Linked DNA regions of Homo sapiens. The protein of the gene in region 4 purifies or fractionates together with the protein of the main gene of each other region. This does not show direct contact. Each region holds a gene or a part of one and is shown on either strand. Other genes may lie near its edges.

What was found.
Region 1: the proteins of MTMR14 (region 4) and SCCPDH purify together in Homo sapiens (affinity purification with mass spectrometry; 2 studies listed by BioGRID and IntAct, with this or other methods). This does not show direct contact.
Region 2: the proteins of MTMR14 (region 4) and SEH1L purify together in Homo sapiens (affinity purification with mass spectrometry, with the first as the bait; 2 studies listed by BioGRID). This does not show direct contact.
Region 3: the proteins of MTMR14 (region 4) and RAB10 purify together in Homo sapiens (affinity purification with mass spectrometry; 2 studies listed by BioGRID and IntAct, with this or other methods). This does not show direct contact.

The regions. Positions count from the first base shown.
Region 1 is NC_000001.11:246,760,054-246,768,637, reverse strand, and holds the end of SCCPDH (saccharopine dehydrogenase-like oxidoreductase), read right to left. Parts: coding exon 8,562-8,584; intron 8,468-8,561; coding exon 8,411-8,467; intron 4,393-8,410; coding exon 4,281-4,392; intron 2,581-4,280; coding exon 2,499-2,580; intron 1,444-2,498; coding exon 1,338-1,443; 3' UTR 501-1,337; downstream 1-500.
Region 2 is NC_000018.10:12,971,262-12,980,616, reverse strand, and holds part of SEH1L (nucleoporin SEH1), read right to left. Parts: intron 4,885-9,355; exon of another isoform or gene 4,735-4,884; intron 1,866-4,734; coding exon 1,725-1,865; exon of another isoform or gene 1,724-1,724; intron 1-1,723. UniProt on the Homo sapiens protein: Component of the Nup107-160 subcomplex of the nuclear pore complex (NPC). The Nup107-160 subcomplex is required for the assembly of a functional NPC.
Region 3 is NC_000002.12:26,133,846-26,139,071, reverse strand, and holds the end of RAB10 (ras-related protein Rab-10), read right to left. Parts: intron 4,135-5,226; coding exon 4,051-4,134; 3' UTR 1,618-4,050; downstream 1-1,617. UniProt on the Homo sapiens protein: The small GTPases Rab are key regulators of intracellular membrane trafficking, from the formation of transport vesicles to their fusion with membranes.
Region 4 is NC_000003.12:9,650,946-9,660,300, reverse strand, and holds part of MTMR14 (phosphatidylinositol-3,5-bisphosphate 3-phosphatase MTMR14), read right to left. Parts: intron 6,681-9,355; coding exon 6,532-6,680; intron 603-6,531; exon of another isoform or gene 492-602; intron 1-491. UniProt on the Homo sapiens protein: Lipid phosphatase that specifically dephosphorylates the D-3 position of phosphatidylinositol 3-phosphate and phosphatidylinositol 3,5-bisphosphate, generating phosphatidylinositol and phosphatidylinositol 5-phosphate.

The DNA.
Region 1 (8,584 bases), on a different chromosome or scaffold from region 4:
CATATCAAAAACACAGAGGCTTCGACCTCCCGCCCTCCTGAACGCAAGTTGCTGCAGGCACGGAGGAACCTGTTACTGTTTCGTGATTCAGATGTGCAGCTAGTCGTGGGCTCTATTGCTCCTGTACTGCTTTCTAATTTCACAGCCGATAAAACCTTTTCTAAGGTCCCACAAGTTAGGGCACAGCTGAGGATCTGTATCTTGTGATGACCAGGCCAGGACAGAGGAAGCAGAGTTAGGGTGGGGAATACTACCACCAAGAACACCCTCTTCGAGTTAGATACCCCCCGCTTCTTCTTACAGGCCTCTTTGAGTTAGATACCCTCCCCCACTTCTCCTTACAGGCCTCTTTGAGTTAGATACCGCCCCCTCTTCTTCTTACAGGCAGAGCAGAAGGGTCTCCCAACACAAATAATATTCCTAAATATTTTATGTTCCTCACTTTTTGGTAGAAATTCCATAAAGGAGTGGCTGTCTTGTTTAGGTAATGAACAACATGATTGCTATGTATATACGTGTTTATTATATGCTTATTACAAAAGAAAAAGTCTTTTGCCTTATTTTAGGGCTTCCATGTAAAACCTAGTTAAAATACAAAAAGTAAATTAGAGAAAAATTCTGCTTAGGTAGTGAAAATTGATAGCAACTTATAAGCTGTATCCTTAAAAACCTAGTCACAGATATAGAATTACGTAAAGATAAAATGATAAGCCTACTTATTGGCAAGAAACAGGTTAGGCCACTTAAGCAGCATGTTTCTACCACTATACAAATACATCGGCAGGTCCAAACATTAAACCACCATTCGATTGACAACCTTTTATTTTTCAACTTAGGTAACAGTCCAAAATCAGTGTAGATTGGCGAAAAACTAGGCAAAAATAGCAAAAAGTGCAGTTTAATTTAGCAAAGGCTCAAGACAGTATGTGGAAGGAAGGTGAGATTTCCCTCCTACTGCGGCAAGGCAAGCGGCAGTTACTGCCCGACAGTAACGATGGTGTGCGCACCCCCGATGAGAATGCTGCTGCAACACAGACTGGGACGCCGCCTCCCCCATTAGACCTGCCAGCTCATTCGTGAAAATCTACCAGGAACACATCAATGAAAAAAATATGTCAAATATGAGTTCTCTGTTATAAGCAATAAAATCACAAAATCAACTCAGATTTGAAATTTAGGGTAAGCTAGGACAATTTCCTACTTTTTAATATATAGATATTTTAGATTTGACAATCGTTTCCACATACACTCAGACAGGCTTACAGAAGAATTTCAAATATCAAATAGAGAAGCTGTTAATTCACGCACGTTATGACTTCAGTTAATTCTTCCAGTGTTTAGACTTCAGAGCTGCTAATAACACTAAACTCAATACCGTGTTTGTTGAGTCTGTCAATCAACTTTGTTTTGGAAAAAGCTGCTCCAGGTGTGAAGACCCCGCCCCTATAAAACAATAACAAGAGAAAACAGTGCACTCAGCTCCTCTCCAGTCTCCTATTTCACAGGCCTCACTATCAAATTGCTACAGAACCCCTGAAAACCCAAGTCTTCATGGTAATCACGGCTACCTTTGATTCCTTCCTAAAATCAGCCAAATGAGCAAGTAGCTATTAGTCAGGAGAAACTTGCACCACAGCCAACCCTATCTAGACTGGCTCTGTTCCTGGAGATACTGTTTCCATTCTATGCATGTGTTTGGTGGGTGCACTGTGCGCCATCACCCCGAAGAACCGCTGCTGTTTACAAGGACAGTCCTCAGACTTAGGGGGATTAAAGAAAGACCCGAATGGAATAAATTTAGATAATCAATTATTATGAAAGTGTAAACAGAACTTAAATTGGATGAAAAAGAAGTTTTTAAAAATATAATAGCTAACATTCATAAATGCTAAATATTTTCAAGGGGGACCTAGGTATTTGAAAAAATTTAATTAGATTTTACTATATACAAATTTTACTTTTATTAATCCTGTTTTAGGTCATGCCTGGTTTACTTCTCAGCAGCAGGCCTCTGCTCATTTGAAAAGCTGGCCTAGTTTTAGGGGGACAGCTAAATGCTCCAGTAAGACAGTACGTCTGAAAATCATCTAGCCAGGATCCCATGGTTCCATTTATGCTGGTGTCAGTCAGGGTTACTACTGCCAGCTGGGTATAGTTAGGCACTGATTGGAAGCTCCTAGTAATACTATTAACAACAGGGACTTTTTTGAGTGGCTGACTCTGGACTTGAGGTATCTTTATAAAGGGCTGAAGTTAACTCATGGCTCTCCAACTTTTCTGTCTCCTCTCATTTACCTCCACAGTTGTTCCTCTGAGACCAACTCTGGGCTGGTAAGAAGCTGTCCTTCTCACAGTTTTAATTTACCTATATTTTTGAAGCAAAGGAACTGAACTATAAATGCTTACATGCAAACCCAAAGCCTGAAAATCAAATCAAAATAAGCTAAAATATAACATAGATAAAAAAGATCTTCTAATTGGAAGAAAACCAAACTTACGCCTTAGGCAGATGAGAAGCATCACTTAGAAGAGTCATGGCTGCCTGAACCATAGCTATGGGGGTAGCCACATAGCCAGCCTCTGCAGAAAACAGTTGATCAGGGAAAAAGAAAGGAATCATGAAGTACCCATTCAACAACATCAAAAATCAAATGGTAGATTTTATATCTTACTCTAGGTGTGCAGATTTTTTTCAATAGATACTCTGGTCACTTAACAAAAATAACATATCGAAAGTATTTATTAAGTGTTAGGAACTGTACTAAGTGCTTTAGGTCTATTAAACTCATTTAATTTTCATAACAATTATTTAAGGTCAATATTACTTTTATCCCATAGAGAGAGAGGTTAAGTGACTTGTCCAAACTAACAGGTAGTGACTGAGCCAAAATCACACCCAGGCAGCTGGTTCCAGAGTCCACACTCCACCCACTGCACTGCACTGCTTCTTGACAATCATTGAAGCCAATGATCCTAGGTTTTTTGTTTCTCTATTGTACACTGAGCCGATCCCTATCTGTATTCACACACTTCACTTAAAAACAACAAAAAAATCCTCTCAATTTTTTCTTAAAGAATAACGACTAAACATAAGTTAAAAAAATGTTTATAAACAAACGGAACATTAGCATTTATAATCCTGTCAAATAATGAAAATACAGTCAACTTACCTTAAAAAGTCAGGTGGGAATTTCAGAAAAGGGCAAGATGGAAACATACTATCATCTGGCTTGATTAAAATCCCCCGTGGGCCAGGCATGGCAATTCATGCCTGTAATCCCAACCCTTTAGAAGGCTGAGGCAGGAGGACTGCTTGAGCCCAGCCTAGGCAACATAGTGAGACCCCGTCTCAATAAAAAATTATAGCCTGTGACCTAAAAGGGCTGACAGTAATTATACTACAGTTCACAAGTGGACCTGTCTGTCTCTGACAGTAATTATACCACAGTTCACAAGTGGACCTGTCTGTCTCTGACAGTAATTATACCACAGTTCACAAGTGGACCTGTCTGTCTCTGACAGTAATTATACCACAGTTCACAAGTGGACCTGTCTGTCTCTGACAGTAATTATACCACAGTTCACAAGTGGACCTGTCTGTCTCTGACAGTAATTATACCACAGTTCACAAGTGGACCTGTCTGTCTCTGACAGTAATTATACTACAGTTCACAAGTGGACCTGTCTGTCTCTGACAGTAATTATACCACAGTTCACAAGTGGACCTGTCTGTCTCTGACAGTAATTATACCACAGTTCACAAGTGGACCTGTCTGTCTCTGCATAGTTCTGTAAAATGTACAGCAAAAGTTCTTGAACGTTTTGGGCAACATTCTTTTAACAACCTATCAGAAGCCATTCCCTTCCCTTGAAAAGTGCACGTGTGCATACATATTTTACAAACAATGTCAGGGTGTTCAGAGACTCTAAAGAAATCCTAGAGCACAGATTTGACTGACATTATAATTACACTACTTGCATATGAGATTCAAACAGGTGAATATCAACCAATCCCTTTTCCTATTAATACTAATTAAAATTTGCCATTCTGAATTACTGAATCATACTCCAAAAACAGCCAGAGGGAGGGATGCACTAATAAAATTGGATTATATCAATAATTTCAATCTTCCTTTGACAGAATAATTTTAAGTTACTTAATTTGTACAAATGTATTTCTAAAACAATTAAGCTTTAAAAAGAATATATTGTAATGGCATTGTACTTTATAGCTTAAGAGTATAAAATTCCCAAGCATTCTTAAGTGATATGTGAAATACCTGGTCCTTTCACCTGAGTACAAATTTTGATATTTGGTTTGTTCTTATCTGTACCAGTGCCTTGGCTGTATCCTTGACCAAAGAATGTCAGCGTGAATGAGGCAGCATCAATCTGTGAAGGAGAAGGCAAAGGGCGCATTTCATAAATACGTCATTTCCTCCTGGAACATAGTAAAACCGACTATTCTATTTCAAGTGAGACATTGTCAATAGATGAAAACATTATTTTATCTGCCAGAATATCCCGTCATCATTTAAGCAGGGAGCGAAAACTAATTCTTTGAAGCTGTCAGTTTTGAAGACTGGCGTGATGTTGGGGGGAAGGGGAGTGGTAAGAAATAGGGAGGAAATAAAGATGATCTGGAGATAGTTTTTATCGGGGGGCAGAATATAGAAATCTGGTTTTAGATACCTATTTGAGGCGACAAGACAAAAATAGCCAGCAAGTAATGGAAATATGGGCCTGGAGTATAGGTATATAATTGTTCCACTTAAAGATGTAAAAATTCGACTCAAAAAACTAAATTCTTGAGGACTTATCCTAGCATCTTTCACAATCACTAAATTTAGGAATGAGGTGATAAAGAATTCAATCATGATCAACACATTTTTATGAAGTATCAACTAAGGGTCAGATACCATTGAGGCCCTGAGACATAATTACTGCCTTTGCTGGAGCTTACAGTTTAGTAGGAGGAAAGGGGGGGAGAGAGAGATAAACAGATTAAATAACAATGTGACATGAACTAAAACATACAGGCATAACTCAGAGGAGGGTGTTATTAATCTACCAGGGCAGAGGGCAATGGTTCTGAACTGTATATATACACACACACAAACACATTTTAATGGTTGTTTTAAAACCCCAAAAGTAGATGGATTCCAGAAAGGAGAACCCATTATTTAAAGGGAAGAAGGGATGCAGTAGCATAGCCTTTCCAGAACATACAATTCAAGAGGTACAGACAAGGTCAGACACACATGCCACACCTGTCCCATCTCCTGCTATGGCGCCCACACTAATGGGTTCTAATCCTCTCTCAGGCTACACACATTGTCCGACCCAGCATAGTCTCTGGGTGGCTACTATCAATTAATCAAAGTTGGATGAAAAATGAATCCTATGTGCTATCCAGAACTAGATCATGAAGGGTCTAGGATGGCCTCACATCTCTGAAGATGGACTTTCGGCCATTTGTGCTCCAGGGGTGGGTACCAAAACCACTCAAATCTGGAACCTTCTTCCTTCCTCCGCAGTGGTGATTCTCAACCCTGGCAGCACATTAGCATCACTGGGCAGATTTAGAGAGCCCCAGTGCCCAGGCTGCATTCCAGACCAACCGAACCAGAGTCTCTGGTCATCTGTTTTGGGTTCTCTTCCAAAGTTGGGAACCACTGCTCTATGCTTTCAGGCCCCACTCCAGACCTACTGAATCAGAACGTCCAGAAGCAAGATGAGGGCATGTGTCAGTGAAAAAAGCTTCCTAGGTGATTCTTTTTTTTTTTTTTTTTTTTTGGAGAAGGAATCTCGCTGTGTTGCCCAGGCTGGAGTGCAGTGGTGTGATCTCAGCTCACTGCAAGCTCCACCTCCTGAGTTCAAGCAATTCTCCTGCCTCAGCCTCCTGAGTAGCTGGGACTACAGGCGTGCACCACCATGTCCAGCTAATTTCTGTATTTTTAGTAGAGATGAAGTTTCACCTGTTGGCCAGGCTGGTCTTGAACTCCTGACCTTAAGTGATCCACCTCCCTCAGCCTCCCAAAGTGCTGGGATTACAGGTGTGAGCCACTGCGCCCGGCCATGATTCTGATATATGAAATCTCAGTTAAGAATCACTGCCAAAGCAGTGGGCCAGGAACATTTTATAAAGAAGGCAATGACAAGGTCAGATTTTGTGTCTTAGAAAGATCTCTTGGACAGCAGTGGGAAGACAGATTAGAAAGAAACCGTAGGAATGCTACGAAAAGTTCAAGCAAGAGATGGAAGCCTGCACTACCAACCACGAGACAGAAGCCTGCACTATCCACAAAGTAAAACGGCAACCCAAAGAATAACAGAAAATATTTTCAAGTCCTTCTGTTCATTTTTGAATTAGGTTGTTTTTTGTTATTGAGTTCTAGGAGTTCTCTATATTTTCTGGATATGAATCTTCTGTCAAATATATGATTTGAAAATATTTTCTCCAAAGAAGACATACAAATGGCCAATAATTGCAAATGAAAAGATGTTCAACACTAATAATCATCAGGTAAATGCAAATCAAAAATACAATGAGACACCACCTCACGGCCATTACAGAAAATAACAGATGTCGGTTTGGAAGCAGAGAAACTGGAACTCTCGTATACTGCTTGTGGGAAGGTAAAACGGTGCAGCAGCTCTGCAGAACAGTTTAGTGGTTCCTCAAGAAGTTAAATATACAATTCACATACGGTCTAGCATTCCATTTCTGAGTATATGCCCAAAAGAATTTAAAGCAGAGTCTTGAAGAGGTATCTGTACACCCATGTTCGCAGCAGCATAACTGGCAATAGCCAAAAGCTGGAGGCAACACATGTGTTCACTGATGAATGAATGGATACACAAAATGTGATCCAGACAGGCAACAGACAATCATTCACCCTTAAAGAAATTCGAACACATGCTTACAATATGGATGAACCTTGAAGACCTTACGCTAGGTGAAATAAGCCAGTCACAAAAAGACAAAGACTGATTCCATTTACATGAGGCACTTGGAGTCATCAAATTCATAGAGACAGAAAGCGGAATGCGGTTGCCGGGGCTGGGGGAGGGCGGAAATGAGGAGTTATTGTTTCACGGGTGTAGAGTTTCAGTTGTGCAAGATGAAAAGTGTTCTGGACATGGATGGTGGTGATGGCTGCACAAAAAGATGAATGTACTTAATACCACTCAGCATTTTTAAATGGTTAAGATGGTACATTTTATGTTTTGTGTATTTTACCACAATAAGAAGAAAAAAGAGGCCGGGCGCAGTGGCTCACGCCTGTAATCCCAGCACTTTGGGAGGCTGAGGCAGGTGGATCACGAGGTCAGGAGTTCAAGACCAGCCTGCCCAACTTGGTGAAACCGTGTCTCTACTAAAAATACAAAAAAATTATCCGGGCGTGGTGGCGCATTCCTGCACAGTGCCTACATTAAGTGCACAGGCGGGGGATTAGCCTTGTACAGGGAACATATCATCCAGAGAGGAGGAAAGAAGGTCGGGATGGAACAATGATGCTACGTTAAGTGCACAGGCGGGGATTAGCCTTGTACAGGGAGTATATCATCCAGAGAGGAGGAAAGAAGGTCAGGATGGGAACAATGATGATAGGTCTGAGAGTAGGAATTTGAGGGGATACAAAACAGTGCTCTCAATTATTTTAGTGAGGTAGGAGTTGGGATAATTTACAGATAGGGAAGACAGCTGCAGTTGGGTAGATTTTGAAGAAAGCCACTGAGAGGAGATAAGAGGCAAGACTAACGAAAAGGAAAAGAATCAGCAAGTGATGCTAACATTCCACAGAGGGGGAAACGGGAACTTGCTGCTACCATCTGTTCAGCAGTGGGATTTCCCCCAGGAGTGCCTGGTGTCAAGGAGATGAAAGCTAATGACCCAAGGCCTGAGCCAGGGTTGGGATCTGTAAGCCAAACGGTAGAAAATGAGGCAGTCCTATTGTTGGGGATGCTGGACACACAGAAATTCACTTGATCCCCCGTCGGAATCCAGGGTATGTGGAAGAGGAAGTGAAACTGGGGGCAGAGGAGGCACAAAGGAAAAGATAACAGAGGAGAAAAATGGAGGAAGAAGAATATTTGAGATTTCTGGAAGTGAAGAGAACACAATTTCTGGAGCTAAATGGCTGGGTTCTCATCCCAGCTGGGCCATGTACTACCTGGAGAAACTTGGGCAAGTTTCTTAGCCTCTGTGTGCCTCAGTTCTCTGATGTGTAAAATGGAGATAATAATAATACCTACATTCAAGGGGTGTTTGAAAAGATTGAATAATCTAATTTACATAAAGAACTTAAAAGAGTATCTGAAACATAGTGCCCTGTCAAGTGTTAGATGATACCGTCATTGCACAAAGAAAAATATTATTTTAGTGTCTTAATACAAAAGAAATTACCTGTTTTTGTGTTGGGCCTTGTTTTGAAAAATAGCCAAAGGAGAAGAACCATGGGAACTAAAGGGAAAAAAAAACCGTCAGTGATATTTTTTTAAAACTCATGGAAAATACTTCTAATAAAAATAATCTAATTTCATAAAATCTTACTTACTTTTATGAGAAGTTGCCTTCCAA
Region 2 (9,355 bases), on a different chromosome or scaffold from region 4:
CCCCTCTGCCCGGCCAGCTGCCCCGTCCGGGAGGGAGGTGGGGGGGTCAGCCCCCCGCCCGGCCAGCCGCCCCGTCCGGGAGGGAGGTGGGGGGGTCAGCCCCCCGCCCGGCCAGCCGCCCCGTCCGGGAGGGAGGTTGGGGGATCAGCCCCCCGCCCGGCCAGCCGCCCCGTCCGGGAGGGAGGTTGGGGGGTCAGCCCCCCGCCCGGCCAGCCGCCCCGTCCGGGAGGGAGGTGGGGGGGTCAGCCCCCCGCCCTGCCAGCCGCCCTGTCCGGGAGGTGAGGGGCGCCTCTGCCCGGCCGCCCCTACTGGGAAGTGAGGAGCCCCTCTGCCCGGCCAGCCGCCCCGACCGGGAGGGAGGTGGGGGGGCCAGCCGCCCCGTCCGGGAGGGAGGTGGGGGGGTCAGCCCCCCGCCCGGCCAGCCGCCCCATCCGGGAGGTGAGGGGTGCCTCTGCCCGGCCGCCCCTACTGGGAAGTGAGGAGCCCCTCTGCCCGGACAGCCGCCCTGTCCGGGAGGGAGGTGGGGGGGGGTCAGCCCCCCGCCCGGCCAGCCGCCCCGTCCAGGAGGGAGGTGGGGGGGTCAGCCGCCCGTCCGGGAGGGAGGTGGGGGGGTCAGCCCCGCGCCCGGCCAGCCGCCCCGTCCGGGAGGTGAGGGGCACCTCTGCCCGGCCGCCCCTACTGGGAAGTGAGGAGCCCCTCTGCCCGGCCAGCCGCCCCGTCCGCGAAGGAGGTGGGGGGGTCAGCCCCCCGCCCGGCCAGCCGCCCCATTCGGGAGGTGAGGGGTGCCTCTGCCCGGCCGCCCCTACTGGGAAGTGAGGAGCCCCTCTGCCCGGACAGCCGCCCCGTCCGGGAGGGAGGTGGGGGGGTCAGCCCCCCGCCCGGCCAGCCGCCCCGTCCGGGAGGGAGGTGGGGGGGTCAGCCCCCCGCCCAGCCAGCCACCCCGTCCGGGAGGTGAGGGGCGCCTCTGCCCGGCCGCCCCTACTGGGAAGTGAGGAGCCCCTCTGCCCAGCCACCACCCCGTCTGGGAGGTGTACTCAACAGCTCATTGAGAACAGGCCATGATGACAATGGTGGTTTTGTGGAATAGAAAGCGGGGAAAGGTGGGGAAAAGATTGAGAAATCGGATGGTTGCCGTGTCTGTGTAGAAAGAAGTAGACATGGGAGACTTTTCATTTTGTTCTATACTAAGAAAAATTCTTCTGCCTTGGGATCCTGTTGATCTGTGACCTTACCCCCAACCCTGTGCTCTCTGAAACATGTGCTGTGTCCACTCAGGGTTGAATGGATTAAGGGTGGTGCAAGATGTGCTTTGTTAAACAGATGCTTGAAGGCAGCATGCTCGTTAAGAGTCATCGCCACTCCCTAATCTCAAGTACCCAGGGACACAAACACTGCAGAAGGCCGCAGGGTCCTCTGCCTAGGAAAACCAGAGACCTTTGTTCACTTGTTTATCTGCTGACCTTCCCTCCACTATTGTCCTATGACCCTGCCAAATCCCCCTCTGGGAGAAACACCCAAGAATGATCAATAAAAAAAAAAAGAAAGAAAAAAAAGTAACTGTAAAAGACCATTTTTAAAAAACATTTCAAAGTTTACATTTTTAAGTAAAACTTCCAGAGCAGAAATATAAACCAAATCATAGTTACCTCTACTCTCTCCTCCACAAACAAAGGTAATCAGAAGGCAAGAGTATTTTCAAATTCATAAATGCTTCTAAAACTCACCTCACAGGCTTTAATGTAAAAATTCTCACATCTTTGGTCGCTATTGCTAGAATATGGAAAGATCTTCCCAAATTTGGAGCGAATGCAATATCATGAACAGGATCAGTGACTGTCATAAGAGTTTCAGCTTTTGCATATTTCCTAATGGAAAAACAATTGACATTAACATTTTAGAAATAAAATGTGCAAAAATCCACACATCACTGCATCTCACCTTTTTTTCACACTGCTCACAATCATGTAGTGCTCACCTCTGTAGTGGGCTCAACAGCAGCCCCCAAAAGAATATGTCCAAGTCCTGACCCCCAGACCCTGTGAATGTGACCTTATTCAAAAATAGCGTCTTTGAAAATGTAATTAAGGACCTCAGAATGACATCCGAGATTTAGGGTGGGTCCTAAATCCAACGTGCAGTAAGTATTCTTTAAAAAGAAGAGAAGAAACGCAGAGACAGAGAGGAGGCAGCCATGTGAACACAGAGGCAGAGATTGGAGTTATGCTGCCACAAGCCAAAGAACTCCCGGAGCCAGCAGGAGCTGGACTAGACCAGGAAGGATTCTAGAGGAAGCACAGCCCCAACACCTTGATTTCAGACTTCCGACCTCCAGAACTGTGAGTGAATACATTTCTGTGTTAAGCCACCTGATTTGTGGTAATTTGTTATGGCAGCCCTAGGAAATTAATACAACCTCCCACGTTTCCTCCTTTAATAATGTACATTTAGCTCGAAACGCTTTAATAAAAATTTAATTACAATAAGGTCTTGGCTGGCCACAGTGGCTCACACCTGTAATCCCAGCATTTTGAGAGGCTGAGGTGGGAGAATTGCTTGAACCCAGTAGTTCAAGACCAGCCTGCGCAACACAGCAAGACCCCATCTTTACAAAAAATACAGAAATAGCTGGGCATGGTGGTGCACACCCATTGTCCCAGCTACTCAGGAGGCTGAGGTGGGAGGATGGCTTGAGCCCAGGAGGCGGAGGTTGCAGTGAGCTGAGATTACGCCACTGCACTCCAGCCTGGGCAACACAGTAAGACTCAACTGCAAAAATAAAAAATAAAAAAGGGCTTGATTTATTAGCCACTAACATCTTTCTTAGGAAAAGAGTAACACATTGCCTAAGTATTTGAATGTAAATAAAAAAGTAAAGCTGGTAACAGGAATTGAGGTTTTTTTGAGACAGTTTCACTCTTGTGCTGGAGTGCAATGGCGCAATCTTGGCTCACTGAAACCTCCGCCTCCTGAGTTCAAGTGATTCTCGTGCTTCAGCCTCCTGAGTAGCTGGGATTACAAGCGTGCACCACTACGCCTGGCTAATTTTGTATTTTTAGTAGAGACAGGGTTTCACCATGTTGGTCAGGCTGGTCTTGAACTCCTGACCTCAGGTGATCCACCCGCCTCTGCCTCCCAAAGTGCTAGGATTACAGGTGTGAGCCACTGCGCCCAGCAGGAATTGAGTTAAGTGATAATAAAAGGAAACTATGCAAAGGCTATTTCATCCTTGCAATTCTATTTCTTTATCTATAAATACAGAATAAGAGGATAATGAAGGCAGTGGTAGATCAGAGTTTTCTACTAGGTTCTTCTAAGATTGAATATCCTGGACAGAACGGCAGCACCTAACCCCCTGCATGTAGGAGACTGGGTGGAGACATCTCCCCATCCCACCTTTCTACAGCATTCTTCACTTGACCTTCTTTTCATCCCAACATTCTTCCTAAAATCTCTACCAAGCTGGTACACACCTCAAGGTTCTCTCCTTGATCTTTCTCACCCATCCAATCACCCTAAGCAATCTCATCCACATCCTTGCTTCTACTGTGTGGTCTGCAGCAGCCTGGGAGCTTCTGGGAAATCCAGAATCTCAGCCCCCTCCTGGGGCCTACACAATCAGAATATGCTTTTTTTTTTTTTTTGAGACAGAGTCTGGCTCTGTCGCCCAGGCTGGAGTGCAGTGGTGTGATCTCGGCTCACTGCAAGCTCCGCCTCCCAGGTTCATGCCATTCTCCTGCCTCAGCCTCCGGAGTAGCTGGGACTACAGGGGCCTGCCACCACGCCCGGCCAATGTTTTTTGTTTTTTTTGTATTTTTTAGTAGAGACAGGGTTTCACCATGTTAGCCAGGATGGTCTCGATCTTCTGACCTCGTGATCTGCCCACCTCGGCCTCCCAAAGTGCTGGGATTCAGGCGTGAGCCACTGCGCCCGGCCAGAATATGCATGGTTTCTACACCCATGGTTTCAGTACCTATAAACCAATAATTCCTAAATCTATCCCCTGCAATTCAGGGGATAGATTCTGGCCTTCTACCAAAGGCCAGAAATAGGACAGGTGGAGCTAAGAGCACACATGCTGCAGCCAGAACGTGTTTGAATCCAGGCTGTAACGACCTTCAGCAAGTTCTCCGTAAAGTGGGAGGAACACCCGTACTGTGGCAGAGAGATTCTAAGTGCCCCCATGACCCGCACCTCCTGGTGGTCCCGCCCTTGTGGAGGCTCCTCCCCATGAGTGTGAGTGGGGCCCGTGGCTTGTTTTCTACCCAGGGGACGGAACATGGCAAGGTGGTGGGACAACACCCGTGTGACTACAACACACAAGCCTGTGACGCCTGCCTCATGAGAAGACTCTCCTGCTTTCAGGCCTTGCAGAAGCAGCTGCCATGCTGTGAGGACACAAGGGAGGGTCTCGTGGCAGGAACACGAGTGCTGCCAACAACCAGGTGAGCTCCGAAGTGGAGTCTTTCCCAGTCTGGCCTGACTCTTGACCCACAGACATTGAAATACCGAATCTGTACTGTTTCAGCCACTGAGTGATAATGCTGTCATGCAGCAATAGACAACTAATCTCAGCTATTCTATCCATCTGCCTTTACACATCCCCACCTGGATGTTCCAAACGCACCTCAAACATATGTCTGAAATAAATTGTGCTTACCACATTCACTCCTCTTTGCTCAGTCCCCATCTCAACAAGTGGCACTACCATCAGCTAGGTCAGAAACCAAGACTCACGTGACCTACAGCTGGTGCCTCCTAGACAAGTCTCCCCGGTCCCTCTTCATCCCACGCCACAGTGCATGTCCTCATTCCACATCATAGTGGGCTACTGCATTCATCCCTGAGTTCCTGCTCCCAGTCCACACAGCTGCCAAAGTCATCTCCCTAAAAGGTAAATACAACCTTGTGACTCTACTGGACCCTGCAAAAGTCCAAATGCTGCCAGGATAGAGATCAGACTTGGCAAGCACCACTCTCCAAAATCTGCCTGGCCTGTTGGCCTGCCCCTCCCCTGTCTCTCTCCTGCATTAGCCTCCCCACCCACCGCCTCGACCCCACGCCCTTGTCTTTGCTCCTGCCTCCTCTCTGCTTGCAGAACACCCTCTGTCTTTCAAGATTCATGCTCAAACATCATCAGCTGAAACTTCTCACCCTACCAGGCAGGTATGTGCTGCCATCTCTAGCAGGTGACCATCCTCATCCATATCCTAGGCGCTGTAAGCTCCTTCAGCTCTTAGTACAGTCCATGCTGCTTATGAAATGTTGAAAAAGTGAGATTTTTTTTTTCTTACCTGAGGCAAGCTATATATTGTAATTAATTAAGGTGGCTGGGCACGGTGGCTCACGCCTGTAATCCCAACACTTTGGGAGGCCGAAGCAGGCAGATCACCTGAGGTCGACAGTTCGAGACCAGCCTGACCAACATGGAGAAACCCCATCTCTACTAAAACTACAAAATTAGCTGGGTGTGGTGGCACATGCCTGTGATCCCAGCTACTTGGGAGGCTGAGGCAGGAGAACTTCTTGAACCCAGGGGGCGGAGGTTACGGTGAGCCGAGATCACACCATTGCACTCCAACCTGGGCAACAAGAGTGAAACTTCATCTCAAAAAAAAAAATAAAATAAAAATAAAAATAATTAAGGTTATCTAAAGCTTCTCCTATCAGAAGGAGCCAAATAAGATCCTCAATGAGAGTGTAAATAAAGAGAATGAACAAAAAAGACTTTGTTTCTGGTCCTGACTCTGGACCTTAGACTAGTCATTCACTCTGTTGGTCTCAGTTTTCTCATTTGTAAAACAGTGTTAATAAAAGCTGTCTCCTCTACTTACAAGGTGGTTGGTAGGATTCAAACTTCATAACACACATAAAAATGCCCGGTAACCTATATAAACACATGGCACTTCTATTATCACTATCAATCCTAGATCTGTTTTAGTATTTTCACTCACAAATAAAAACAAATATATCCAACACTGGTTAATTTGGCAAATGTCTCCTGTCTACTAAATGGTGATACTACTTAGAAAAAGATAAACAGGCCGGGCGTGGTGGCTCACACCTGTAATCCCAGCACTTTGGAAGGCTGAGGTGGGCGGATCACAAGATCAAGAGATGGAGACCATCCTGGCCAAAATGGTGAAACCCCATCTCTACTAAAAATACAAAAGTTAGCTGGGCATGGTGGCGGGTGCCTGTAGTCCCAGCTACCGGGGAGGCTGAGGCAGGAGAATCGCTTGAACCCGGGAGGCAAAGGTTGAAGCGAGCCAAGGTTGCGCCACTGCACTCTAGCCTGGAAACAGAGTGAGACTCCATCTCAAAGAAAAAAAAAGAGAGAAAAAGATAAACAGGTATTAATAACGATACTACATAGTCCACTATCACATCTCCTCCACGTTCAATCTAAATAAGAACCTTCAAACAATGCTTACCTCAAAGAACCAGCAACAGAACTCCAAAAAGTGCTGAACTTAATAGGTTTGATTACTTCCCAAGTCAATAGCACACACCCCCACCTGCAGACACTCTTTCCCCAACACCACTTCCCCTCGTTTTTGATGCTGAAAATGCCAGACACTTGCTGTCTCACTCTCTTGCAGCTAAGGCATGGCTGGATGACCAAACTCCAGCCGCCAGCACCTGATAAGAAGCCTGCTAAGATACTTCTAGGAAAGGTGTTTTTTTCTAGAATACCCTTCTTTGTATTAGCATGTAAAACCTGACATTGTGCAGCTCTTTTGTGATCATAAGAGGGAGCTATCACCAGTGTACTAAGCATGACAGCAAGAAAAAAGTGGAAAATATTTAGGTAGGTCCTTGATGTCATCATTGAGCAACTGAGTCACTACCTAACCCCAGAACTGCTCCACCCTCAGGCTCCTTGTCACATGACATAATACAGGGAATCCCCCAGTCTAGATTTATTCTGTTAGCTAAGAGACTAGACTCAAATGCAATCTCAGATTATTTTTAACATTGGATTATTTAGGTAATTTAGAAATACTTAGGTAATTTCTAGGCCGGCCGTGGTGGCTCACACCTGTAATCCCAGCACTTTGGGAGGCCGAGGTGGGTGGATCACCTGAGGTCAGGAGTTCAAGACAAGCCTGGCCAACATGGTGAAACCCCGTCTCTACTAAAAATACAAAAATTAGCCAGGCGTGGTGGCACGCACTTGTAATCCCAGCTATTCAGGAGGCTAAGGCAGGAGAATCACTTGAACTCGGGAGGTAGAGGTTGCAGTGAGCTGAGATTGCATCACTGCACTCCAGCTTGGGTGACAGAGTGAGACTCTCAAAAAAAAAAAAAATAGGTAATTTCTATTTGCCTGTATTTTCTTTCAGAACTAACTGCAAGTTATTTATCTTTTTACTCAAATCTTACTTATGAAATATTTTCTTTTCCTATGTTTTAGAAAAAAATCTTTTTTTGACACTGCTGGAGTGAAGTGGTGCAATTTTGATTTACCGCAGCCTCGACCTCCCAGGCTCAGGTGATCATCCCACCTCAGTCTCCCAAGTAGCTGGAACTACAGGCATGCGCCATCATCCCCACAGCTAATTTTTGTACTTTTTGTAGCGAAAGGGTTTCACCATGTTGTCCAGGCTGGTCTTGAATTCCTAGACTCAAGTGATCCACCCACCTCAGCCTCCCAAAGTGCTGAGATGGCAGGCATAAGTCACCTCGCGTGGCCAATGATACACCTTTTACGTTTTTGGGCTTATGTCTACATATTCATTCTGCTCAGCTCAGGTTGAAATTTACTTTAACAAGCCCAACACTTCATGAAGCCTCTATAAAATGTGCTATTAATAGGGCTCATAGTTTTTACAGCTTAAAACTCCATGAAAATCTCTAAGACCATTTCCCATCACTGCAGCACATTCTACTGGACAGCACTGTTGAAGACTGAGCCTCTCTGCAGACACCAACAATCTAGGAAGGTAGAAGGTGTAAGATCCCCTTGGTAACCCAGATGGTAACATTTGGAATTGCAGAGCCCACGGGAGTAACACTAGTTCCTTCTCTACTGCTGGCCCTGCCTAAGATCTGACTATTAGACTCAAGAATTTTGTCTAGTACCTGCGAAGCCCATCTGATCACCTGACAAGTGCTCTCTTCTCCTGTAAGACTGAGTAGTGTGCCTCTGAGACACTGCTTTTGGCTCTCAGAAGCTTTGCAGACACTTGTATCTCGGCATGACCAAAATTAACTTACCTTCACATGCTGCCACACTCTACCCAAATCTGCCTTGTTCCCAGAGTTCCTTATCTCAAGAAATTACACACATTGAAATTACACACTGAACTCTTAAGCCAGAACCTTGGAAATCATCTTAACACCTTCCCCCTTCTTCCTCAGTTCAGTTCTCAAATCCAATCAATCACCAGATCCTATTGATACCACTTCTCAATTATTCTCAAGTTGTCCACTTATCTCCATGCCACTGCTACTACTATCCCAAAGCCACGTACTCTCCCACCTGGACTGTCTTCATAGCATCCTAGCCGTGAATCCACCATGTTTCCCTCCAAAACACTTGTCACACCTATAGAAGATCCATCTGATCCCATTATTCCCTATTCACATCACCTGTAAGATAAAACTGAAACAATGGACATTACTTCTTATAGATACAAGTCTTGCCTATTTCTCTCCACACTCATTTTTGCCCAGCATGTTCCAACAACAGTATAAATATACTCCCTCTCTCTTGCTCACGGCCTTACCACATGCAGTTTTCTCCACCAGGAGTGCTTCTGCCCTCTTTGTCTGGCTAACTTCTACTCACCCTATAGGTCATCTTCTAGGTGAACCTTCCTAGCCCCTAAACCAGATTAGGTTCCCCAGGTATAAGCTCTTTAGCACCCTAATTCTTCCACTTCATAAGATTCATCACCCTTTTTTACTATTATTTTTTGTTTCACTGCAAGATGGTACATCATACTGGGAGATCAATTACCTTCTCCTCTTTTTTTTTTTGAGGCAGGGTTTCGCTCTTGTTGCCCAGCCTGGAGTGCAATAGCGCAATCTCAGCTCACTGCAACCTCCGCCTCCTGGGTTCAAGCGATTCTCCTGCCTCAGCCTCCCGAGTAGCTGGGATTACAGGCACCTGCCACCACACCCAGCTAATTTTTTGTACTTTTAGTAGAGACGGGGTTTCACCATATTGGCCAGGCTGGTCTACTTTCTCCTCTTTATCACTCATGCCTGTGCTATCACAGCCTAGCACAGAACTTGGTATATTATAGTAAATCAGCAAACATATGATGAATGACACATAATTCTGTAAATGAATAAAGAAATAACATTTTAAAAAATTAAATGCAATTCTGAACAATTATTAAAACCAAAG
Region 3 (5,226 bases), on a different chromosome or scaffold from region 4:
CCATCGATTTAAGGGGGGAGACCATATCCTATTTCCCTACACCAATCTTGTTTGTTTTTTTTTTTTTTTTTTTTTTTTTTGAGACAGAGTCTTGTTCTGTCACCCAGGCTGGAGTGCAGTGGCATGATTTCGGCTCACTGCAACCTCTGCCTCCCGGATTCAAGCGATTCTCCTGCCTCAGCCTCCCAAGTAGTTGGGATTACAGGCATGTGTCACCATGCCCGGCTAATTTTTGTATTTTTAGTAGAGACAGGGTTTCACCATGTTGGCCAGGCTGGTCTCGAAGTCCTGACCTCAGGTGATCCACCCGCCTTGGCCTTCCAAAGTGTTGGGATTATAGGCGTGAGCCACTGCACCCAGCAAAGGCAGAATTGTAGGTCCCAACAAAACAAGTATGTTGGGGGGAAGGAATAGAACATTAAAAACACTCCATGTGATTCTTAAAATCACTGCATCTGAGAAAAACTCTACATATACTTTCAGCAGAGACAATCTTGTCAACAAATATTTATCTTTATTATTGACTAATAAAGCCTGAATATAGGATCAAACATTTCTTTTCCCTACACATAAAGACAAGGCTGTTGCTATGTATAACAAAAGCAGGAAATACTGTTTTTTGTTTTTTTTTTTTTGAGAAGGAGTCTTGCTCTATAGCCCAGGCTGGAGTGCTGTGGTGCGATCTCGGCTCACTGCAACCTCTGCCTCCTGGGTTCAAGTGATTCTCCTGCCTCAGCCTCCCAAGTAGCTGGGATTACAGGTATGCGCCACCACGCCCGGCTTTTAGTATTTTTAGTAGAGACGGGGTTTCATCATGTTGGCCAGGCTGGTCTTGAACTCCTGACCTCAGGTGATCCACCCGCCTCGGCCTCCCAAAGTGCTGGGATTACAGGCGTGAGCCACAGCGCCCAGCCAATACTTTTTTTTTTTTTTTTTTTTTTTTGAGACGGAGTCTTGCTCTGTCGCCCAGGCTGGAGTGCAGTGGCGCTATCTCGGCTCACTGCAGCCTCCTCCTCCTCCTCCCGGGTTCACGCCATTCTCCTGCCTCAGCCTCCCGAGTAGCTGGGACTACAGGCGCCCGCCACCACGCCCGGCTAATTTTTTTGTATTTTTAATAGAGACGGGGTTTTACCACGTTAGCCAGGATGGTCTCCATCTCCTGACTTCGTGATCCGTCCGCCTTGACCTCCCAAAGTGCTGGGATTACAGGCATGAGCCACCGCACCTGGCCAATACTTTGTTTCTTAGTAAGAGGCCAGCTGCTGCTAAAACAAGGATTTACCCTCCAGTATGAGGAGCCCAGCTTGGTCCCCCTGAGGAATCAGGTGACCTCAGCTGTAGTGGCCTTAGGCACATCCAACTAGTGTAAGCCAGGTGTGATTAGGATCGTGGCATCTCCTATTTTGGCACAAGGATGATTCCGCTTTAGGATCCCAGAGATAATTCTATTTTTTAATGTAGTTTCTCAGCAAAGACAGTTCTTGAAATTGCCTTTCCAGTTTTCCATAGGTTGACAGTGATTTCCCATTTTTGTCAACTCTTTGAGTTTGCGATTCCACATTTTTTTCAGAAGTAATCTTCCAATTCCATAAATAAATGAAAACCAAACCACACAGCTGGAAATCAAGTTTTGTTTTTATATGAACAGAAGTAGACCATCTAGAAATATTTCAGTTTATTTAAATTGTTAAGTAGAATATGAAACCGAATTTGTAGCTAGTACCAGAGAATGGACTTAACTGTTTGGTGTTTAATGAGAACAGCTTCTACACAGGATCCCAAGAGACTTACAGAAAAGGGGCAAAGCCCTAATATTAAGCAAATAAAACTCATGTTTCAAACAGATTATACAAAAATTGATTTATACTTCATTTCCCTTTTTTGATATTTAGAAAGTGCAGATTTAACAAAAGGTAGCCATATCCTTTCTATGTACAATGCCGATTATAATTATGCAAAACTGTCAGTCTGTTATCCAAAAATCCCAGTGTTTAGCTCTCCAACCTTAAGTCATGGAATTGAATAAGAATTAAAGAGGGTTAAAATAAAAAAGCTAATGCCACATTCCAGATAAAGGGAAGCAACAAATACATTAATCTAACAACAGTAGGTTTAACCTAAACTTTTCAAAAAGCTTAACATCATTTCATTATATTTTTAGTGGAAAATTAGGGATTATTTGGCAATGCTGCTTTTTACTAGTAGTAAACAATGATAAAGTCAAGTGTGGGAATAACCTAAGAATAACAACCAGTGAGGCATATAAAATTGTTTTTAGGGCACTATCTGAAAAATTTGTGGATTTTCATAGCAGATACGTCCCTATGTTGTTTGCTTATGTGAGCCAAGAGGTCATTAAAATGCTATTCACGACACAGAAAGACTTCTCAATGGAAGCTGCTGTCCTAAACTCAGCCTCTGCTAGAAATGAATCATGCTATTCACAATTCTTTCAACAAAGGTATCATCTTAGGATGCTAGCAGCATAGCAAACTTCACTTACCCTATCCTAATGATAAGCAATGAAGCAAAACTAGAAAAAATGCAGTGAAAAAAGGACAGGGTTAGAGATAGCTAAAGATCTTATCTTTACATGAAAAGCCTTTCGTTGTCCTTTTTCCAAACCCATGGTAATACAAGTTTTCCAAAAGGATGTAAAGACAGGACTTAAAATTAATAATATTCTAAAGTATTTCTGAATCTTAAGGTAAAGAAACTTAACACTGAAAAAGTGTTCTTCAGAGGCCAAATCTCAATACATTTGGCAAACATGTTAATAAAATTCACTCCTCCTTCCTGCTTTTCCTTTTTTAAAAAAACAACCTGTACTAGGCTACCAAGCTGCTAGAGGAGTTGCCAAAATGCAGACTACTCAAATTTAGGTTAAGAGATTTATTCTAGGAAAGTGAATAGGCTATACACCTAATTAGAAAGACAAACCACAACACCCTCCAAACACTAGTGCATGCAGTTAACTCTTCCATTTCATAAACTCAATGGATAGACAGGAAGGGAACAAAGAGAGGAGGAAAAGCAGAACATAGAAGTAAAACAGCAAATGAAGGCATCTGGGACACATTTTAGGGAAGAGAGCAAATGAGGGGGGAAGACACCAATTAACTGACATTGGATAGTAGGCAGTTAGAACTTATCTTTCCGTTTACCTAGCAAGTTACATCAGTGCTTTATATTAAACTTGACAAACCTACTAGTTTGTCCCTTTCACTCTTAAATATACCATGAGGTGGTTGGGGAGGGAGAAGCAAATAAAGCAGCATGCAGGGAGACGCAAGGAAGAAGTGGCCAAGGAGAAGAAATGGTGGCAGGAATAGTTTTAAATATCAAGGCCACTTAAAACAAGACTCAGCAAACCAAAGCTATCACTTCTGCATTACCCTTTGTCCTCAATTAACTACTTTGAAAATTACAGCCAAGCAAACCACAAACATTTTAATGGTTTATGTTTGGATGATATGTCTCCTGCACATGCTTCCACCAGAACAAAAAAGGAAAACCAAAGAAGTTCCTTTCCACATAAGGCACAGGACAAAATTAATCCCATTTACATATTCAAGGCGAAAATGAGTGTTTTCCTGGCTTTTGTTTGTTTCTTTTGCTATCACATGTCTATAGATTATAGGGACTCAAGCACATTATCCATGACAGAAAATTCCACTGTTGTACAAAATAAAATTGTTAATTCTAACTTTATTCTTATACAATTTGCAGAATAGATTTGAAATGATTGCTATAGGTTTTAATGTTGATAAGAACTGGACTATAATACAACTGAAATGCAGTTGAGCTGAGCAAGTACATTTAAAAATGAACTCACAGACATGATTTTTCTATACATTTTTTTGTTTGAAGAAAATTATGATAAAGTCAGCAAGCAGTCACAGATGAAAGAACAAATAAAATAGGTGGCTTGGATAGTTAAGATGAGAAACAAAAATATCTGTTTAGAGTTAAAAATGGACAGAGTGGTTTATTTTGCAGCAAGAAGAGAAAACGGGGTAGTGGATGGCAACTGATGGAACAGGAGAATGCTCAGCAGCATTTGCTCTTCCAGCCTGTCACGCCTCCTCCACTGCTGATATCTACATTTTCACTGTTGGGCTCTTTTACAGGGGTCTGCAACAAACACACAAGGAAAATAACTCATGAAAAAACACTGCCATGGATAAAATCACGATTCAACAGGAATATTCTTATGTCAATTTATACAACAAAATACAACTACAATCACAGGAGATAGGTTTCCCCTCCGTGCAAAGTAAAGATTTGGAAGCTTTGTTTTGATTTTCTTTTTGCCTGCTTCCTCCAAGCTGTGAAATATTGTAGACATTTCCTGGCATGCCTTTATAAAGCTTCTGAAATCTTCTCAGCTCTAACTCTTAAATAGATTTTGTTATCTTCTAGCCCTGACCTCTGAATATGTTTAGTACTTAAAAGGCATTGTGGAGCAAGTTGTATGAAACCAGTGTTAGGTATATGTAACGTCACAGAAATAAAACTGCCCTTTTCTGTTATCTGCCTTTTTAGACCAATTTTATTACTGTATCATAGTTTTAAAAAGGCAACCTCAACTGATTAAGTGAAAAGGAGTGGAGCAAAATGTAGTTATCTAATTCATGTTAAAAATGGATATAGATGGCTGAGCACAGTGCCTCACGCCTGTAATCCCAGCACTTTCAGAGGCCAAGGTGAGAGGATCACTTGAGGCCAGGAGCTAAAACCACGTTGGGCAACACAGCAAGACCCCCATCTGTATAAAAAATTTAAAATATTAGCTGGACACAGTGGCTCAAGCCTGTAGTCCCAGCTACTCAGGAGGCTGAGGCAAGAGGATCACTTGAGCCCAGGAGTTCAAGGCTGCAGTGGGCTATGATCACTCCACTGCACTCCAGCCTGTGCAACAGACCAAGAGAGTAAGACTCCTCCCAACTCCTCTAAAAACACCGAAAAACCCCAAAGGAGATACAACAAAATACTAACAGTAGCAACCCTTAGGTGGTAAAATTATGGTTGATTTAATTTTATTCTTAGTATAATTCTGCTTTTTCCCAACACTAAATATTACTTTGAAAATCAGAAGGGCCGGGTGTCGTGGCTGAGGCCTGTAATCCCAGCACTTTGGGAGGCCGAGGCGGGTGGATCACCTGAGGTCAGGAGTTCGAGACCAGCCTGGCCAACATGCCAAAACCCTGTCTCTACTAAAATTAC
Region 4 (9,355 bases):
GGCGAAGGGCGAGACTCCGTCTGGGGGAAAAAAAAAAAAGCAAAGTGCCCGTAGGGTGGCAGCAACCCACCAGGCAGCCCTAGGCACACAAGCTCACAGAGAACCAGAGTGTGCTGCCTTCCCCTCACCCAGTTTCTCTATGAAATCAAAAGGCACCTTGGTACCAATTAATTGCCTAACTAGACTCCACAAGAATATAAAACCGAGCACCTTTAGTACTGCCACAGTGGCCTTCCTCCCACTTACTTGGCCCGTGGCCGATGTCACATATCTGGTCAGCACCATCTGCTGCAACCGACTCTCACTTAGCTCATACCAGCCCTCTGAACCCTAAATGCCTACATCTGATTTTCCCAGGTTGAGTTGTAGCCTCAAAACCAAGGTGGATTTCTCAGGCTAAACTTCTGTTAAAAACAAACAAACAAAACACCCCTGGTGGAGGACACATCAGCATTTTCCTCTAGGGAGGATCTTTTAATGTAATGACCCACCTTTTCTTGTTAGGTCGGCCAGTGGTTCCTTTACCGGTTCCCCTACATCAAGCTCCAATTCAGTTTCTGGCCAGGCACAGTGGCTCATGCCTGTAATCCCACACTTGGGGAGGCTCAGGCGGCAGATCACCTGAGGTCAGGAGGTAAAGACCAGCCTGGCCAACATGGTGAAACCCCGTCTATACTAAAACTACAAAAATTAGACAGGCGTGGCAGCACGCGCCTCTAATCCCAGCTACTCGGGAGGCTGAGGCAGGAGAATTGCTTGAACCCAGGAGGCGGAGGTTGCGGTGAGCAGAGATCACGCCACTGCACTCCAGCCTGGGCAACAGAATGAGACTCCGTCTTAAAAAAAAAAAAAAAAAGAACCAATTCAGTTTCTGTTCTCTCACTTTTTCCTGTTTTTATTATCTCTTGTCCTTAGGATTCTTTTATTGCAGTGCTAAGCACTGAGCTGTGTCTGGCACATAATACTCACATTCGAAGGGATGAATGTAGGCTTCTGTATTTACATTTGTAATGTATGCACTGAAATTTCTGGCAAGATGTTACCAGGTAGTGAGATTTTGTTGTTTTTTTCCCAACAAGGTCTTCCTCTGTTGCCCAGGCTGCAGTGCAGTGGCGCCATGGTTCACTGCAGCTGACCTCCTGGGCTCAGGTGATCCTCCCACCTCAGACTCCCAGGTAGCTGGGACTACAGGCACATGCCACGATGCTTGGCTAATGCTTTGTATTTTTTGTAGTGACAAGGTGTCACCATGTTGCCCAGACTGTTTAATTCAGTCTGTTTTTTATTCAGTCTATTCAGTTTAATTCAGTCTCAAACTCCTGGGTTCAAGCGAAACGCCCATCTCGGCCTCCCAAGTAACTAGGATTATAGGCGTGAGCCACCATGCCCAGCCAAACTATTTTCAAATACAGAAGAAAATGCTGTTATCACATATTTCCAATAGGAAGCTTTCCCAGACAGGCACCACACTTACCAAACTGGGTGGCTTGTTCCTATAATGTACCCCACAACTTCCTGAGATAAATGTTACTGCTGCTACTATTTAATAGATAAGAGGCACAAAGTAGAGCTTACACCCACATTATCTCACTCAGTCCTCACTTACCCAATTTTACAGATGAGGTAGTTTAATGAGATGAAATCTCTAGCCCAAAGTCACAGAACAGGTAAACAGGGTAGCTGAGATTCTAAACCCTGTGGGTAGCCACTGGGCCCATGGTTTTAACCACTATCCGGCAGGGCCTCACCTGTACTTCCCCTAATTCCAGCTTTTATTAACAATTATTGCTTCTTTATTGGACTCTGTTTCCCACTAGACCTACTGGTAAGGACTTCATCTATCTGGCTTCCAACTTGATCCCTGAGGTCTACTACACAGCAGCAGCTGAACGAACACTGTTGACAAACATGTCTTAGCTATTCAGAGATCCCTGTCCAGGCTTCTATTCCCAGATGATGAACCAAATTGGAGAGGTTCCTTAACAGGACCAAAACATTGCTTAAATCCAATTCTACCCTGTTTAATTCAGTCTATTTTTTATTCAGTCTATTCAGTTTAATTCAGCATCATAGTAACAGCCAAGCCAGACAGTAAAAAAGCAAAAAATGCTATTTCTTCCCACCCAAACATACCCGAAGTCCCCCCTTTCAACAAGCAGGCATCACCCACTCAACATCACTTCAGTAACACTTTAAGGCCTTGCAAGGAGTGAAAAGTAAAAACAAACTCCAACAAGCTCCTCTAAGGTTAATCATGTTCCACAGTGGCCTTGGCCTAACTGTGAGGTTCTGCTAGACAAGGTGGGAGAGCCGTGGTGGTGAAAGATAAGGCAGACAGGTACAGAGTCAGGAAATACAGCTTTTAACCCCACTCTGCTTACTACCTCTGTGATCTTCGGCAAAGGCAAATTACTTCTCTGGGCTTCAACTTCATCTATAAAAGAGTGGTGAGGGCCAGGCGCGGTGGCTCATACCTGTAATCCCAGCACTTTGGGAGGCCGAGACCAGTGGATCACGAGGTCAGGAGTTCAAGACCAGCCTGGCCAAGATGTTGAAACCCCGTCTTTACTAAAAATACAAAAATTGGCCGGGCATGGTGGCACGCGCCTGTAATCCCAGCTACTAGGGAGGCTGAGGCAGGAGAATCACTTGAACCTGAGCGGCAGAGGTTGCAGTGAGCCAAGATCACTTGCGCCACTGCACTCCAGCCTCAGCGACACAGCAAGACTCCATATCAAATTGAAAAAAAAAAAGAGTGGTGATACTGTCTTCTTCACTGAATAGTTGTAGGGCTTAAGCTAGCAAGTAAAACCTCAACACCTGCCAAACAGAGGTACTCAACAAATACTAGTTTCAGTCTCTTTAAGGGATCAACACTAAACTTGTTTCCTTCCAGGAAAAGCTTTTACAAGGCAACCACCACTACGTTTCTCAATGTACTATTATGTTACTGAAGGGTAACATTTGGTATTACCTGAGAGCTTGTTAGAATATGCCAAATCGCAGGCCCACCTCAGGTCTTCTGAATCTCTGCATTGTAGAAAGATCCCCAGTTGATTCACTCATAAAATCAACATAGAAAAGAACCACTCTGTTGGGTGCGGTGGCTCTCACCTCTAATCCCAACACTTTGAAAGGCCGAGGTGAGGAAATCTGTTGAGCTCAGGAGACCCACCTGGGCAATGCAGCGAGACCTGGTCTCTACTAAAAATTAAAAAAAATCAGCTGGGAGTGGTGGTATGTGCCCATATTCCCAGCTACTTGGGAGGCTGAGGTGGGAGAATCACTTGAGCCCAGGGGATCAAGGCCGCAGCAAGCCATGATTGTGCCACTGCATTCCAGACCCCGTCTTAATTAAAAACAAAAACAAAAACAAAAAAACCCACCTTGATTACAGCTGAGCTTAATATCAGAATGTCATCATCAGGGCACAGAGGTAAAACCACCAGCCAGCCAGCACCAAAGAGGGTAGGAAGAAGGGGAACGAAGAGAATGGCAAGGCAAAAACAAAGAAAACAAAACAAAACAAAACCCTCTTGTTCAGAAACTTTAGCTTAAAGATTTACGGAAACTAAGTTTACCCAGCTGGGCGCGGTGGCTCACACCTGTAATCCAGCACTTTGGGAGGCCATGGCAGGCGGATTGTTTGAGCCCAGGAGTTGAGACTAGCCTGGCCATCATGGCAAAACCCATCTCTACTAAAATTCAAGAACTAGCCAGGTGTGGTGCCACACACCTGTAATTCCAGCTACTTGGGAGGCTGATGCACAAGGATCGCTAGAGCCTGGGAGGCAGAGGTTACAGTGAGCCAAGATGGCACCACTGCACTCCAGCCTGGGCAACAGAGCAAGATTCTGTCTTAAAAAAAAAAAGAAACTAAGCTTACCTAATTCTGGAAGGAGGAATTAAGGAAGAGCTAAGAACCATAAATAACAGGGCCATAACAAACCCCAATTCTTTAGGCTTGGCGATCCCAAGTTCTTAGGTTATATAACTGAGGATGTAATACTGTTTCTGTGATCTATTTACAAGAGCCCTTAACACTCTTTTCTTGGAGAACCCCACTACAACCTTGTGAAATGGGCACTCTTTTTTTTTTATTTTTTTGAGATGGAGTCTCACCCTGTCGCCAGGCTGGAATGCAGTGGTTCGATCTTGGCTCAGTGCAGTCTCCGCCTCCTGGGTTCAAGTGATTCTCCTGCCTCAGCCTCCCGAGTAGCTGGGATTACAGGCGTGCGCCACCACACCCAGCTAATTTTTGTATATTTAGTAGATACGGGGTTTCACCATGTTGGCCAGGATGGTCTCAATCTCCTGACCTCATGATCTTGGACTCTCAAAGTGCTGGGATTACAGGTGTGAGCCAGCACGCCCGGCCAAGATGGGCACTCTTATAGACATCCCCACTTTACAGATGAGGAAACTAAGGCTTAGTGCTTAAACTCCTCCTACTGGATTGTTCCTCTGCTGTAAACCTTCTCTGGCTCCCCATGGCCTGCAGCAGCGGTTCTCAAGCTATAGTGTATTTAAGACATCAAGAGGCCGGGTGTGCTGGCTCACACCTATAATCCCAGCACTTAGGGAGGCCGAGGCGGCTGGATCATGAGGTCAGGGGTTCGAGACCAGCCTGACCAACGTGGTGAAACCCTGTCTCTACTAAAAATACAAAAAAAGTAGCTGGGCGTGGTGGCGGGCGCCTGTAATCCCAGCTACTCAGGAGGCTGAGGCAGGAGAATTGCTTGAACCCGGGAGGCAGAGGTTGCAGTGAGCCAAGATCGTGCCACTGCACTCCAGCCTGGGTGACAGAGCACTCTGTCTCAAAAAAAAAAAAAAAAAAAAGACATCAAGGGAGCTCTCACAGAATGTAGACTGGAAATTCTGATTCCAGAAGGCCCAGGAGAGGTTCTAGAATCTGTCATCTTTTTTTTGAGATAGAGTCTTGCTCTTGCTCTGTTGCCCAGGCTGGAGTGCAGTGGTGCAATCTCGGCTCACTGCAACCTCCACCTCCTGGGTTCAAGCGATTCTCCTGCCTCAGCCACCCGAGTAGCTGGGATTACAGGAGCCCACCACCACGCCCAGCTAGTTTTTGTAATTTTAGTAGGGATGGGGTTTCACCATGTTGGCCAGGCTGGTCTCAAACTCCTGACCTCAGGTGATCCACCCAAAGGAGGCTGGGATTACAGGCATGAGCCACTAGGCCAGGCCGAGAATCCATAATCTTAGTAAGTGCTTAGGGGTTCCTAGCACAATAAAACCACTGATACCCACACACAACCCACAGGTTCACACTCCCTGGCCTGATGATCAAGATCCTATATGAGTTGATCCCTAAGGACATTTTCAGGGAAACTCCTGCTCATCCTTCCAATTCCAGTTCTTCCCAGGCACATAAACACAAGGCAGAATTAACCATTTCCCCAGTTGGCCTACGGCAGCACTTCTCAAACCTGGTAGTGCATTCGAATCACCTGGACACCCTGTTCTGCTGTGATTCTGGCTCAGTGGCTCTGGAGCATGAGCTTCTGCGTTTCTAACAAGTTATTGAATGCACTGCTAGCCCTGCTTTGAGTAGCAAGGGGCTACTGCACTATGCAGCATGACTGCTGCGGTACTCCTCACAACATTTCACCCACGGGGCCAGGATTTCACAGATAGTGCTGACAACGGCTCCTGAAATTCCCTTAAAATCAGCAGGAAGTAGGGAGATTAGGAGAGCAAACTTTGAGATCAACATATACCACTTCCTAGAGCCTCATGCTGTGATTACTTATCAGTATCAAATAACTATACCATTTACTGACTACCTACAGGCCACAACCTGCACCAAGCATTCTGTGTCTGCTCTGGTATAAACTGTTAACCCACATAAGGTACTCAGGTCTTGGTAGGCCCACCATAAATGGTAGCTTTTATTTCTAATTCTTACAACGTACATGTCAGGCTTTTATCAGCCCCATTTATCATCTGGACTGCACTACCACTTTCTAAAATTTTAGTTAGTCCTTAAAAGGACTAATTAACATGAGGTAGAGAATTACCAATAAGAAAACTAAGGACAAAGCAGTTAAGTAACTTGCCCAGCATCAGTTACACAGCCAGCAACAGGGGAATCCAGGATGTGAACTCTAGACAGTCTGACTCTAGCAGTCTGACTCTAGACCTTAGGCTCTCAAGTGCTACATACGGTAAACGCTGGTAAGCCTGTCTTTACACAGTGTACCTCCCACTCACACTCTCTAAAAAAGGGACACTGATATTCAGAGAAGTGAAGTGTGAAGTCAGCTATCTTAGGACAATGAGCTCTAGGGTGGAAGTGAAACAGCAATCAAGGGCTGTTACTCCCAACCCCTCATTCTATGCCATGCCACCTTGCCAGTCTGACTTGTCCAACCTTGAAGTAAATAAAAATGCCAATAAGGATTAACACCTGGGGAAAGTGATTCTGCCCTGCCCAGCTACAGACTTCCTGGCCACAGGGATTAGCTGCCACGGACTCCCCAGACATGTACACTACGGTCACATGATGCTCACGTGTCTTTCTCCTTCTCAGAACTCTCATACTCCAGGAACACGATGTGCCGGGGATAGTGGCCACAGATATCCCCATTCGTGTTTGGAATCACGCTGAAACAGTAGTCTCGGCCAAACAGCTCCAGACATCTCTTCTCAATGCGCTCAACCTGCACAGAGAAGGAGACCAGAACACAAAGAGAATTCTGGGGTTCTGAGGGTGAGAATTAGGAGGTCCATGGCCTAAGAGGTCACTGGGAAAGACATGTACCTGGGTGATAATTATTCTGTGCTGGGAAGATGTGATGCTAGGCCACAGGTCCTACGTGTAGTCCATTAACCCATATATTGTATACTTCAGGAAGGATTCTTAAACCCCTAACAATGAATCTGAAATTGTGGGTATTGAGCATTTGGGGGAGACGATTACAGCTTTCATTAGATTCAAAGAGGTCTACAACCCATAAAACATAAGAACTCTTGGTCCAGGTTACTGAAACTGCCACTAATCCACTACCTTCATTGGTCAGCTTCCCCATTCTCTTATTTATTTTTTGAGACGGAGTCTCGCTCTGTCGCCCAGGCTGCAGTGCAGTGGGGCAATCTCAGCTCACTGCAGCCTCCGCGTCCGGGGTTCAAGCGATTCTCCTGTCTCACCCCGAGTAGCTGGGATTACAGGTGCGTAGAACCACGCCTGACTAATTTTTCTATTTTTAGTAGAGACAGGGGTTTCACCATGTTGGCCAGGCTAGTTTCAAACTCCTGACCTCAGGTGACCCGCCCACCTCGGCCTCCCCAAGTGCTGGGATTACAGGCGTGAGCCACGGCACCCGGCCTTTATTTTTTTAAAAGACACAGTCTCACTCTGTCATCCAAGCTGGAGTGCAGTGGCACGATCTCAGCTCACTGCAACCTCAGCCTCCTGGGTTCAAGTGAGCATATTTGGCTAATTTTCATATTTTTAGTAGAGATGGGGTTTCACCATGCTGGCCAGGCTGGTCTTGAACTCCTGATCTCAAGTGATCCGCCCGCCTCAGCCTCCCAGGTGTGAGCCACCATGCCTGGCCTCTTCCCCATTCCTTTTTTTTTTTTTTGAGAAAGAGTCTTGCTCTGTCACCCAGGCTAGAGTGCAATGGTGTGATCTCTGCTCACTGCAACCTCTGCCTCCTGGGTGAGCCACCACGCCCAGCCAACAAAAAATTTTTAATAGAGATGGGGTTCATGTTTCCAGGCTGCTCTCGAACTCCTGGGCTGAAGCAGTCTACCTGCCTTGGCCTCCCAAAGTGCTAGGATTACACGCGTGAGCCAGTGTACTGGCCCTCTTCCCCATTCTTTAGCCATAGACTAGTACCTACAAGCTCTATTCCATGCAACCAGTAAAAGCTGCAAAGTCTCTTTATACACAACTTGCTGGTGAAATAGAAGAAACAGCTCCCCCTAAAATTACTTATTTTGATCACAGTTCAGAGAAAAACACAACAGAAAAAAGGCATAAGAACTGTAACATCAAGAAGTTTGCAAGAGGGCCAGGCATGGTGGCTCACGCCTATAATCCCAGCACTTTGGGAGGCACCGAGGAGGGCAGATCACTTCTGATCAGGAGCTTGAGACCAGCCTGGCCAACAGGTGAAACCCTTTCTCTACTAAAAATACAAAAATTAGGCTGGGTGCAGTGGCTCATGCCTGTAATCCCAGCAGTTTGGGAGGCCAAGGCGGGCAGATCACGAGTTCAAGAGATTGAGATAATCCTGGCCAACATGGTGAAACCCCATCTCTATTAAAAATATAAAAATTAGCTGGGCATGGTGGCGGGCGCCTGTACTCCCACCTACTGGGGAGGCTGAAGCAGGAGAATCGCTTGAACCCAGGAGGCGGAGGTTGCAGTGAGCCGAGATCACGCCATTGCATTCCAGCCTGGGCGACAGAGTGAGACGCCATCTCAAAAAAAAAAAAAAAAATTAGCCAGGCATGATGGTGCATGCCTGTAGTCCCAGCTACTAGGGAGGCTGAAGCAGGAGGATCGCTTGAATCCAGGAGGTGGAAGTTGCAGCGAGCCAAGATCGCACCACTGCACTCCAGCCTGGGTGACAGAGGGAGACTCCTTCTGAAAAAAAAAGTTTGCAAGAAGTTAGTCCAAAGGTAGTGAGTTATCTCAATCGATTGTTCAGTTACAGATCTAACTCCCTGTTCTGCCTGAATTGTTATAAATACATATAAATATATATACATCTAAGTTTGCAGGAGATCAGAAGGCCTGGAGAGATAATTAAGGCCAGCCGCAGCCAATATGAGGTGTAACTTATGCTAACCCTAATCTTCAGGGTCATGTAAGTTGGAAGAGGGGTCCAGAAAAACCAATGACCTACAGCCACTCAAAAGACCCTTACTGGCCAGGTGTGGCGGCTCACGCCTGTAATCCCAGCATTTTGGGGGGCTGAGGTGGGAGGATTGCTTGAGCTTAGGAGTTTGAGACCAGCCAGGGCAATATAGCGAGACCATGTCTCTAGGAAAATAAAGAAAAATTAGCCAGGCATGGTGGTGTGTACCTGTGGTCCCAGGTGCTTGGCAGGCTTAAGTGGGAGGATCGCTCAAACCCAGGATTTCGAGGCTGCAGTAAGTCATGGTTGCACCACTGCAATCCAGCCTGGGCAGCAGAGCGAGACCCTGTCTCAACACAAAAAACAAAAACAAACAAACAAAAAAGCCAGGCGCGGTGGCTCACGCCTGTATCCCAGCACTTTGGGAGGCTGAGGTAGGCGGATCACCTGAGCTCAGGAGTTCAAGACCAGCCTGGCCAACCTGGGGAAACTCCATCTCTACTAAAAACTACAATAATTAGCTGGGC